Regions from separate parts of the Homo sapiens genome. Here all the other regions are reported to be linked to region 2. Evidence: microRNA targets listed by miRTarBase, many of them from high-throughput screens and not tested one by one. Region 2 holds a microRNA gene; each other region holds the end of a gene's coding sequence.
What was found. Region 2 holds the annotated microRNA hsa-miR-4757-5p (AGGCCUCUGUGACGUCACGGUGU, at 1,588-1,610, shown strand). A microRNA usually pairs through its seed, bases 2 to 8, with sites in the 3' UTR of a target mRNA and lowers its output. Matches are read on the target gene's strand: a 7mer-m8 pairs with bases 2 to 8, a 7mer-A1 pairs with bases 2 to 7 and ends in A, and an 8mer does both.

Region 1 (3,254 bases), not on the chromosome of region 2:
TATATACATGCTATAGTTTGAACATTTTGTGTACTTCCAAAATTCACATTAAAATCTAATCCACAATGCGTTGGTATTATTAAGAGGTGGGGCCCTTAGGGGTGATTAGGCCAGGAGGGCTCCACACTCATGGATGGGATCAGTGCCTTTCTAAGAGGGCTTGAGGGAGAGAGTTTGTCCCTTTTACCCTTCTGATACTGCGAGAAGGCACCGTACTGGAAGCAGAAAGCAAGCCCTTACCAAACACCAATCTGCTGGTGCCAAATCTTAGACTTCTCCAGCCTCCAGAAGTGCAAGAAGTAAATATTATTTATAAATTCTTAGTCTATGGCATTTTGTTACAGCAGCAGGAATAGACTAAGACAATGTGTTGATAGGTTTAGGGTCATGTTTTACTTTTTCAGTCATGTTAAATTTTAGATGGTTCTAAAGTCAAAACTCTAGAAAAAGTTAAATTCACAGAATAGCTTCCATCCTCATCTCCTTCCTTCCCCTGCTAACAATTTTTATTAGCTTTGGGTTTACTCGTTTCTTTTTGAAACATAAGCAAATACACCTATGTGCATACATTCACATTTCTCACCCTTTCTTACACAAATGTAGTGGGTATACCATAAATGTTCTGCACTTTGCTTTTCCACTTACTCTATCCTGGAGACCATTTTACGTTATATAGAACTCTTCATTGTTTTGTGACTTAAGTACTCCCTCATGTGGATGCACCATAATACATTCCTGTTAAATAGACACGAGTATTTTTAATCTTTTGCATATAGCATTCCAAATTTTTCTAAATGTACCTTTCAGAGCCCAGAAAGAAGTTAAAATTCTGGGTCAAAGGATAAATGAATATGTCATTCTGATGGTTATTACCAAATACTCTTTCTGAGACAAGAGTCTTACTCTGTCACCCAGGCTGGAGTGCAGTGGCACAATCTCAGCTCACTGCAACCTCTGCCTCCCGGGTTCCAGTGATTCTCGTCCCTCGGCTTCCCAGGTTCAAGTGATTCTTGTCCTTCAGTCTCCCGAGTAGCTGGAGTTACAGGCATCTGCCACCATGCCCAGCTAGTTTTTTTTATTTTCAGTAGAGACAGGGTTTCACCATGTTGGCCAGATGGTCTTGAACTCCTGACCTCAAGTGATCCGCCCACCTTGGCCTCCCAAGGTGTTGGGATTACAGGTGTGAGCCACTGCACCTGCCCAAATATTCTTGTTAACCAAAGTTTAACTTTTGCATTCCATTCCCATATATGTGTCCTTATTTCTCCACAGCCTCAACTCAATACAGTTGTTTTTATACTTCTTTTTCAAGTGAAAGGTAAAAACACTGGTTTATTCTCTTCTGAACAAGGTGAGCATCTTTACATGTTAAAGGTCATTTACATTTCTTTTTGTATGAAGTATTCTTAATTATTGGAATCCTGTCAATACATTGTTTGCCTTGGGTTATGGTGGGGTTTTTCTTGTCCTATAAACATTTTTATGTAGTTAAAATTGATCAATAGTTTTATTTATTTCTTCTAGGTTTTAAGTCACATATAATGTCGTTTTCCTCCATTTTCTTCTAGTATTTGTATGCTTTACTTTTTACAATTAGATCGTCAGGCGGCTTGGAATATATCTATATGCCTATTTTCAGTTATCTTAGTATCATTAAAAACCCATCTTTACCCCACTTTTACCATATTCTGTAACTTTCATATGCATTGTGTCTGCTATTCTGTTCATGTGTCAACCCCAATTACAGAGGCATAATGTGTTTCAGTATTTACTTATAGCTATCCTATACATAAACTGTTTCTGTATTTTAAATCCTACCACTTCTTCCAAATTCCCATATTAATTGTAGCTTTAGTTTAGTTTACCCTTCTGGATTTTTCCTGTGTGTCTAACGGCTTTTTTTTTTTTTTTTTTTTTAATGAGACAGGTTCTCAATCTGTTACCCAAGCTGCAGTACAGTGGCATCATCATAGCTCACTGCAGCCTTAAACTCCTGGGCTGAAGTGATCCTCCAGCCTTAGTAGCTGGGATTACGGGCGCCAGCCTTCATGCCTGGCTTCAATTGCTTTCTCTGATCTAACTGTGTTGGCTAATACCTCCAGGAAAATAAAGTAATGGAGATCACAGGCACTGGTCCTGACTTCAGGGGGAATAGGAGTAATTCCTACTAAAAGCCTGATTTTTCTGACATACTCCTAGACAAATAAATCATAAAACTGTTCTAATGAAGAAAAACTTAACTTTATTGAGCATAGGAATAGACGGGCTTTCAAATTATTTTTTGCTTTATGGTTATTACTTTTATAAACCATCTGATCCACGGCAAAACTAACTGGTACCATACAAAGATATGTCTATTATTGTCATGTTTAGATTTTCTATTCCACATTCATTGACAAATATATTTAAATCTAGATAGAAACACCTGTGATTGAATTAGTGCATGGTAATGCATGGCATATACATTGCTTAAGGTGGTAATAAGGGGTCAGATGCTCTACAGCAACCTTCAAGCACAGGCACCGATTTGCATTTTATGCAAAACTTCAGGTTTTACTCAATTTTTACACTGGTGGAAGCTGATGTCAGTAACTTAAAAGGCAAGCAAATACTTTTCCAATTCTTAGCTGAACAAAAAATACACACAATGTAGCGTTTTTATTGGGCAAGACTTGCTTTTTATATTTCACGTGAGAATGCAATATAACCCTTCCTTGAACAAAATGACCAGGGTACTAATAAAACCATCTTTGCAGGAGTGTTTAATAAGCATATTTTATTTAAATAAATCCTCCAGTAGGAAATGGAGAATTCATTGCCTTTACTTAGAAGGCTATGTAAATAGCTATCTGTCAAATTTATATATGCAGCTCACCAATATTCCCTTACTGGAAACATCAGTATTTCCACATCACATCACAGTTCCCAAAACGACTTTAAAGTCTCAAAATTCCGTGTCTCCTTTGGCTTGCTTCTCTCTTGATTCCACCCAGGCTTTATTAATGGTTCGCTTCATATCATCGTCTCCATCTTCATAAATTTTCTTTAGAACATTCATCAATCCCTCACTAGGATCTGTTTCAGTGTCATAGGAGGGCTTCCTTTAAAAAGAAAACATATACAACAATGGGGAAACGAAAGCACCGGAAGATACTATCATTCAGGTTGTTAACACTGGCAGGAAGTAGAGGGATAAGAAGGAAGACAGAGTACCCAAAGATATTTACAATCAAAACGGCACGCACAAATTCATC
Region 2 (3,254 bases):
GTCACACTTGCCACATACGTACATAGGCTCCTTCCCCAGCTCCACACCTCAGTCGCCATAGGTTGTTTTTTAACTCCCTGGGTTCCACAAACGTGTGGTGAGTAGCGCTCTGACATAGGGCCATGACACATCATCCCAACCAAACATAACAATTTGTGAACTGATTAATCCATTGCTCCCTACGTCATTGAAAAAAGGCTTTTTGCCGGGGGTTTCAAGAAGTCCACCAGTTCAGTGATATTCTTCCTCTCTCATTTCATTTCAGGATGCCTCTGTTATAATAAAGATGGGGGTGGTATCTCCTGGGAATACAGTAGGTTGGGAGGCAGGCTACGTCAAAATGCTGAGAGGCATTTCTAAGCATCATCATCATCAACATTTACAAGGCCTTCATACATGCCAAAGTTGTTCTACAACACATTAGGGTAGTTTTTGGTTCAAGCAGTGAATACATTATTGGCAAAATGTGTATTACTTTTAACTCTACACAAAGTGAATGAGGTAGGTAGGAAAAGCCCTACCCCCATTATAGGAAGAAAACTGAGGCTAGTGAAGCACAGGGACTTCCCCAAAACTTGTGCTTGTCAGAAAAACCTAGAGCTGGGTCTTCTGGCCCTTCCCCTCAATGAAAGCACAGCTTCGAATTCTTTCTCTGCCACTGACATGAGATTTGTCTCCAACCTAGCATCTCAAGTCCGTAATGAATTTTTCATCTGAAACATATGCCAACTGGGCCCAACTACCAACTGGGCTCTAGAGACGGCCCAGGAAGTCGGGATGAACGGGTGGAGTGGGACACCAGGGCGTTCCACCGGGCTGAAGACCGTCTGAGAGCTCTACCTCAGAGAGGCTGCCCAAAAGAGCTGGGACCGCAGCGAACTTTCTGGCCTTGGGTAGGACCCGCCGCGCCACCCTCGCCAGCTCAGATCCCAGGGGCCTCTGTAGGACCGCGGCGCTGGACTGGGCACTCCAAGTCAAGGGCTCCAGCCCGCATTAGCCAAGCGCCACCCACTTTCTCGTCTGCATTTTCTGCCCACACATACGCCAACGGCTGGATGCGCCCGCCGGGCCAGTGTGCCCCTGAGTTTGTGATCCCCAAAAGCAAAACACTGAACTCCGCGACGATTTCCACGCACCGCCGTCAGCTTCCGGACTCCGGCACCAGCAGCACTGGCCTGCGAGTTCCTTTTGCGCCTGCGCGTGGCGCTTGCGCAGTGGGAGAGGAGGGCGGGGCCGCAGTGGGCGCGGCCATAGTGGGCGCAGAAGTGGGTGGGATGAGTACGCCGCGGCAACTGCTGCCCTGAAACCCCGCGGGCAGGGAGACCACTCTAAACCACTGATTCAAGAAGAGGACGCTGCAGGGCACCGCCCTTCACTCAGGACAGCTGCCAACGCTTCGGGTCTGCGGATCGTGTTAGTGGAGACGAACCGATTCGTGGCGCCTGCCTGGGCCGATTCGCGGGGCGGGGCGGGGCGGGGCTGAGAGGTGTGGATATGTTAGCCCGAGGCGGGGCCCATCTGTGACGTCACGAAGTTACGTAATGGAATGCCTCTGTGGACCTCATTCAAGCCTTGTGTTCCAGCCCGAGGCCTCTGTGACGTCACGGTGTCTGCGGGAGGAGACCATGACGTCACAGAGGCTTCGCGCTCTGAGAGGTGGGACGGGACTCTTTTGAGCCGGCTATGGGGACACCAAGATTCTAGGGGATTTAGGATATCAGGTCCTCAGGTTCTGGGAGCTGAGGTCACGTCAGGGAGTCCCAGAGCATCACATTGCGTCCCTCCCCACAATGTGAGCAGTGAATTCCGCGGCAAGGAAGTACGCGGGAAAACATTTTTTAGTGGGTCCCTAACCCCTAACTACACTCTGGAAATAGGGGGTAGAACCTGAAACACTCTCTCCCAGGAAGAAGCTCCTGCAAGCTGTTCTTTTCCCTGGAAGCACCTGATATCTTACCGGAGACAGCATCTGGCAGTTCCGGGCTGTGCCCAGGGTCTCTGGCACCTTCCGCCCTCCCTGCCCAAGAGGCTGTCCTAGGCCAGATAGCTTCCCCAGCCGTACACAAAAACTTCAGGCCTAGCAGCTTTGAGAAGGGCCCCAGCTGAACTCCACCTGGCCAGCACCATCGGCCTCTTTTTCTCCTGAAAAATAGCCCCAGCAACGCTGAGCGCCACACAGTCACTGGGACCAGCGAAGCTTATTGTGATGGGGGTCTGGAGAGGAGACAAGAGCTGGGACTTTCTAGAGATGCATTGGGGGAAAAATTGGGGCAGGCAAGGAAACCCACCCAACATTTCTGACCCTCTCAATTGCACTTTTTGTGCAACCCACACTGAGTATGAGCAGGAAACTGGGGCACTAGTTTCCAACCACATCAACCAACCACATCACCTGGGAATTGTAGCCTGGATAGGGTCGGATGGCCCACAGGCCCAGCCGGCCTTTCCACCTGTAGTTACTGTTTCTGCACAGTCTATGAATCACTAGAACAAGCTGCAGGGAGACGTGATCTCTGAGTCCACCGGGATAACAGCAAACATCAGTAGAGCAAATAGGGGCATTCTGAGAGGGCCAGGGAGTTGCTGCGCATCATCCTGTCCCACCCTCCATTCCCCATCCCCAATTTAAAATTCTGCACTGGAAATCTGTTATTTTGAGGATGCACACTTGATACTGACATTCAGTTGCAGACCTTGGACTGGGTGGGTTTTCACAGTGCTGGAGGTGGGGTGACCCAAAAAGGATTAACGTGGCTGGCAAACCTCCCCATTTCACCGCATTTGTAGCTTCCTGAGGCCCCGGGAACTGCAGAGGCTCGATCTTCAGGGAGGTGGAATGATGTGTTCTGGGAGGTGGAGGGATGTCAGGGGCTAGGGAAGAGCAGCCATAGACAACCCCAAGGATAGCATCCCAGAAAGAGCCAAGGGACTAGGAAGGGCACCCTGTGTGTGTGTGTGTTCACCCATGCACTCTGGTTGTTTTGGAGCAACCATGGCCCGCAGCCTCCTGGGGCTTCATAAAGAAACCAAGGAAGATTCTGCAGTTGACCCTAGTACAAGCTATGGTCAGGCACAAACCACACCACAACCTGCGTGCGCCGCTTGGGCGCAGACCGTCTACACCACCCGCAAACCTACTGGCTAGCCCCACTTCCACGCACTCAGAGGCCCCAGTTCTCAGGAATGGGGGCATAATCCTGGGCCGCGCGCGACCTTGTGAACTGCTTGGAAGAAGGATTGGGATAGTGCCCAAC
Region 3 (3,254 bases), not on the chromosome of region 2:
AGCCTTCCCCCTGCAACGCATTGCAGGGAGATGGCGCCTCCTGTTCTGAGGAAGTGGGGCTATGCTGTGTGTCACTGGCTTGGGTTGGAGGGAGACCATGGGGATGGGGCACTTAACAATGGAGAGACCTGAATGTCTGGTAACTTGGTGTAATTCACCCTCTTGTTTTCTCCTGTCTCTTTCTCTTTTCCGTCTGGGACTTCCTGATTCCTGTGTCCAGTCTACTTTTTTACTTGAGAATGTACCACCCCTTCCCTGTTGTCCATTGCCATCCACATTCATGTCCTCTGCCCTCTGTTTGCTCTCTCAACACACTTCCCCACCCACCGTCCTCCATTCCAGCCCAGGCTTCTCCATCACCCATTCCTCCTTTTTCGTTGCGTTCATTTGCACTCTGTCCCTCAACACTAGAAATGCTGCTCGTGGCACAATCTAAGTCATTACCCGAAGAGCAACAGCTGGCGCCTCCTCCCTGCCTGCTTTTTCTGTACTCTCAAGTTCCCCCAAAGCCCCAAAGAGTTGGAGGCCAAGGGAAGGGGCAGGGAGGGGAGTGGCTGAGGCGAAGTACCCATGAAGCTGCCCAGACTTGGGAGGAGAAGAGTATCGGTGCCCATGGTGACTTCTAGAAAACCTGGCCACTGGTAGGAGCTAGGGAGGGGCTGGGAAGATGGCAGCTCACTCAGTACTGCCTGGTCATGTGGAGCTTTCCTTCCTGGACCAGGCCTGAAGAGGGTCCTGGGGGTGGACCAAAGTCCAACTTGGTTTCAGTGCAGTACCCTTTTCGAAAGTAAAAACTTGTTTTTTGTAGTTATTTCTAATCTGTTCGTCCAGGATTTTCCGTGTCTTTGGGGATCTTACAACTTTACTTTGTTCTCCAGAGGCCTGGAGAACACTTAGGGATTGTGAAAATAGCAGGACTTGTTTCCATCCTAGAAGCAGTCCCATGTGCTTCTAGCTGGAAGGAGCTTTCTCTTCTTTACATTTTCTACAGCATTCTGTATGAGGGCACCAAATAAATCCATCTAGCTGGTAGTTTTATCTAGCCAAATAATTTAACCTAGCTCCCAGTTAATTGTTGGCATAAAGAGAGAGATTGCCTGTTAGTTATAGAGAAACAGTGAGTCAAGTGCTTAATTTGAAAGTAACAAGCTCAGAGGAAGCCACTCCTTGCCCTCGTTAAAGAGGGTCCTGTTCCTCTCTTCCTGTTGATGAAGGAGCGTGAGGGTGTTAGCAGTGTGAGATCTTTGGACACCCATGGAATCCTTTCCTCCACACCACCCGTGCACTTGCCAAAGACAGGGATGAGGCAAGTGGTTCTTCCTGGGGCCCGGCCGATCCTCAGGATGCAGAGAAGTCATGTAGACCCACCAGCCCCACCTTGGGGGGAGGCGTGCCAGCCTGTGTCAGGTGTGCTTGTGTATTGCTGTGCTGTCATGGGGCCCTCTCCTTGAGAGCCGCCTCTCTGTTCTTCCTGTAGTATATTCCCCTTTGAACCACCCTTTCCTGTCTGAATTCTACTTTGCCTCCTTTCTCTTCCTCCTCTTTGCATGGTTTGTGTGTATAGACAGTGGAACCTGAGGATGGGATCTGCTCAGCCTATCTTCGGGGCAATTGCTGAGCTTCAGGATGGGCTATTAATGTGGGATAAGCCCAGGTGCAAGGGGAGGAGGGCAGGCTGGGAACAGAGCGGAGAATGCCCATGGCCCTTTATTCCTTCTTCCCTCGGTCCACGAACAGGAAGAGGCTGAGGCCATGCTGGGCAGGGTCTGGATGCCCACTTTCCATGCAGCAGCATTTCATTGCTCAAAACCATCCTTCCTTTCCTTTCGCCCTTGTTTCCCACATTCCCTTCGTCCTGCCCAAGGGCGGGACTGAAGAGCTGGAAGAAAGCAGTCAGTACCCTCCCAACGGCCCCCCTCGAAGGTCTCCACTCTCCTCTGGGCTCCTCCTTGCCTAATGCAGGGGGTCACCGCTGGAGAAGAACCACCACTGTCCTCGATGTGTCCCAAGCCTGGAGCGAATCCGTCCTCTTGGCTCTCCCAGCCCTATCACAGGAATCATTCCTGGGTTTCTGTCCCTCTGAGGCTCACCAGGTGTAGTTGGCCTTGTTCTTTGGGGGTATTAGCCCTTCTACTTTCTTTCTCACCCACCCTGTACCCTCTTCTGTGTGTCTCTGCTATCCCCCTTTCCTCCCACCACCCATGTGCATGAGCAAATGTGCAACAAAACCCTGGGACTTTGCAGTCAAATGAAGCTGAGCTTCCCACATCCCGTTCTTCGGTTTGCCATGAGACGATGTGGGGTTTCCACTGTGTGTCTGTCATCACCTCTTTGTCTTTTTTTCCTAACCCTGATCTCATACTTGTATAGAGTAATAACAACAGTTGTACTTCCACCAAAGGCATGTGGCATATTTACCAATGTCATGTATTCTGAACAAAGGCAAAAAATACAAATTCCTACCATTAAACTGGCTTGGTTGTTGTTTGGGTTGGAGTAGCTGTGGGGGCTTGGGGAAGGGTGTCGTTTCTTTCTAGTAGTCTCATGTCGCTTTAGGTCAGCTGGGCTGGCTTACACGCGCTGTGCGGTCTTCATGGAGATGGGAGCTCTGTGTGTCAGCACAGGAAGTGGTCTCCCAGCGTTCAGCCTGAAGCAGCCCAAGTCCTGTAGGTGCTGGTAAGAGGAAGTGAAGACAGGAAGTTGCGTGGGCATCTCACACTGGCAAACAAGCACAGGTTCCCTCAGGCCTCTTCCATCTGCCTCCTGTGCTCCTTCCTAGGTCCTTGGCCTGCTTGTCCTGTCCCAGGGGATGTGCCCAGATAAGGCTGTCAGTGAACACCCCCTTACCCCCTTTTCCCCATCATCCTCACGTACAGTTTTGGTATGCTGAGTTCCACCGTATTGATTAGGCACATTTTAGAAACGAATAAAAAGGAGAAGTCTCTCCTTGCAGCTGAGGGAGTGAGGCATTTGCAGGTATCCTGAACCTCCCAGCAGTCACCCGAGGGAGCAGAACCCTAATTGCAGCTGAGGTGCAACTGAGATGGAGCCACGGGGGTGCCTCTGAGGGCCTTTGTTTCATACTTAAACACTTTGCAAGTTGGAGCCGCTAGGCTTGGTGACAGGGCTCAGTTGGGACCAGTGTGGAGAAAGACAGGAAAGTGGAAAAGCTTGGTCGCAGCAGACACAAGGGCCTTTTATTTTGACAGAGCTGAGTTTGGGAGGGGTAGCCCAGCCCCAACCCATGCCTCATT

Region 1: miRTarBase lists CACYBP as a target of hsa-miR-4757-5p. Seed matches in the 3' UTR shown: 7mer-A1 at 1,154-1,160.
Region 3: the mRNA of VAMP1 is a reported target of hsa-miR-4757-5p. Seed matches in the 3' UTR shown: 7mer-A1 at 523-529, 7mer-m8 at 877-883 and 7mer-A1 at 1,747-1,753.

The regions. Positions count from the first base shown.
Region 1 is chr1:175,009,770-175,013,023 of GRCh38, reverse strand. CACYBP (calcyclin binding protein) reads right to left here. Exons shown (of 6, transcript NM_014412.3): 6 at 997-3,101. The coding sequence ends at 2,945. MRPS14 (mitochondrial ribosomal protein S14) reads left to right here. Exons shown (of 3, transcript NM_022100.3): 3 at 1-66. Among named protein-coding and RNA genes, the nearest start is that of CACYBP, 11 kb to the right of the region's middle. RefSeq lists a silencer at 165-365.
Region 2 is chr2:19,346,852-19,350,105 of GRCh38, forward strand. MIR4757 (microRNA 4757) reads left to right here and starts at 1,578; the gene lies at 1,578-1,654. It also overlaps a transcript of OSR1 not described here. RefSeq lists enhancers at 676-735, 886-1,155, 1,206-1,335.
Region 3 is chr12:6,461,453-6,464,706 of GRCh38, reverse strand. It overlaps VAMP1 (vesicle associated membrane protein 1), which reads left to right. Exons shown (of 5, transcript NM_014231.5): 5 at 221-2,470. The coding sequence ends at 237. It overlaps TAPBPL (TAP binding protein like), which reads right to left. Exons shown (of 7, transcript NM_018009.5): 7 at 2,391-2,673. The coding sequence ends at 2,558. Among named protein-coding and RNA genes, the nearest start is that of VAMP1, 7.6 kb to the left of the region's middle.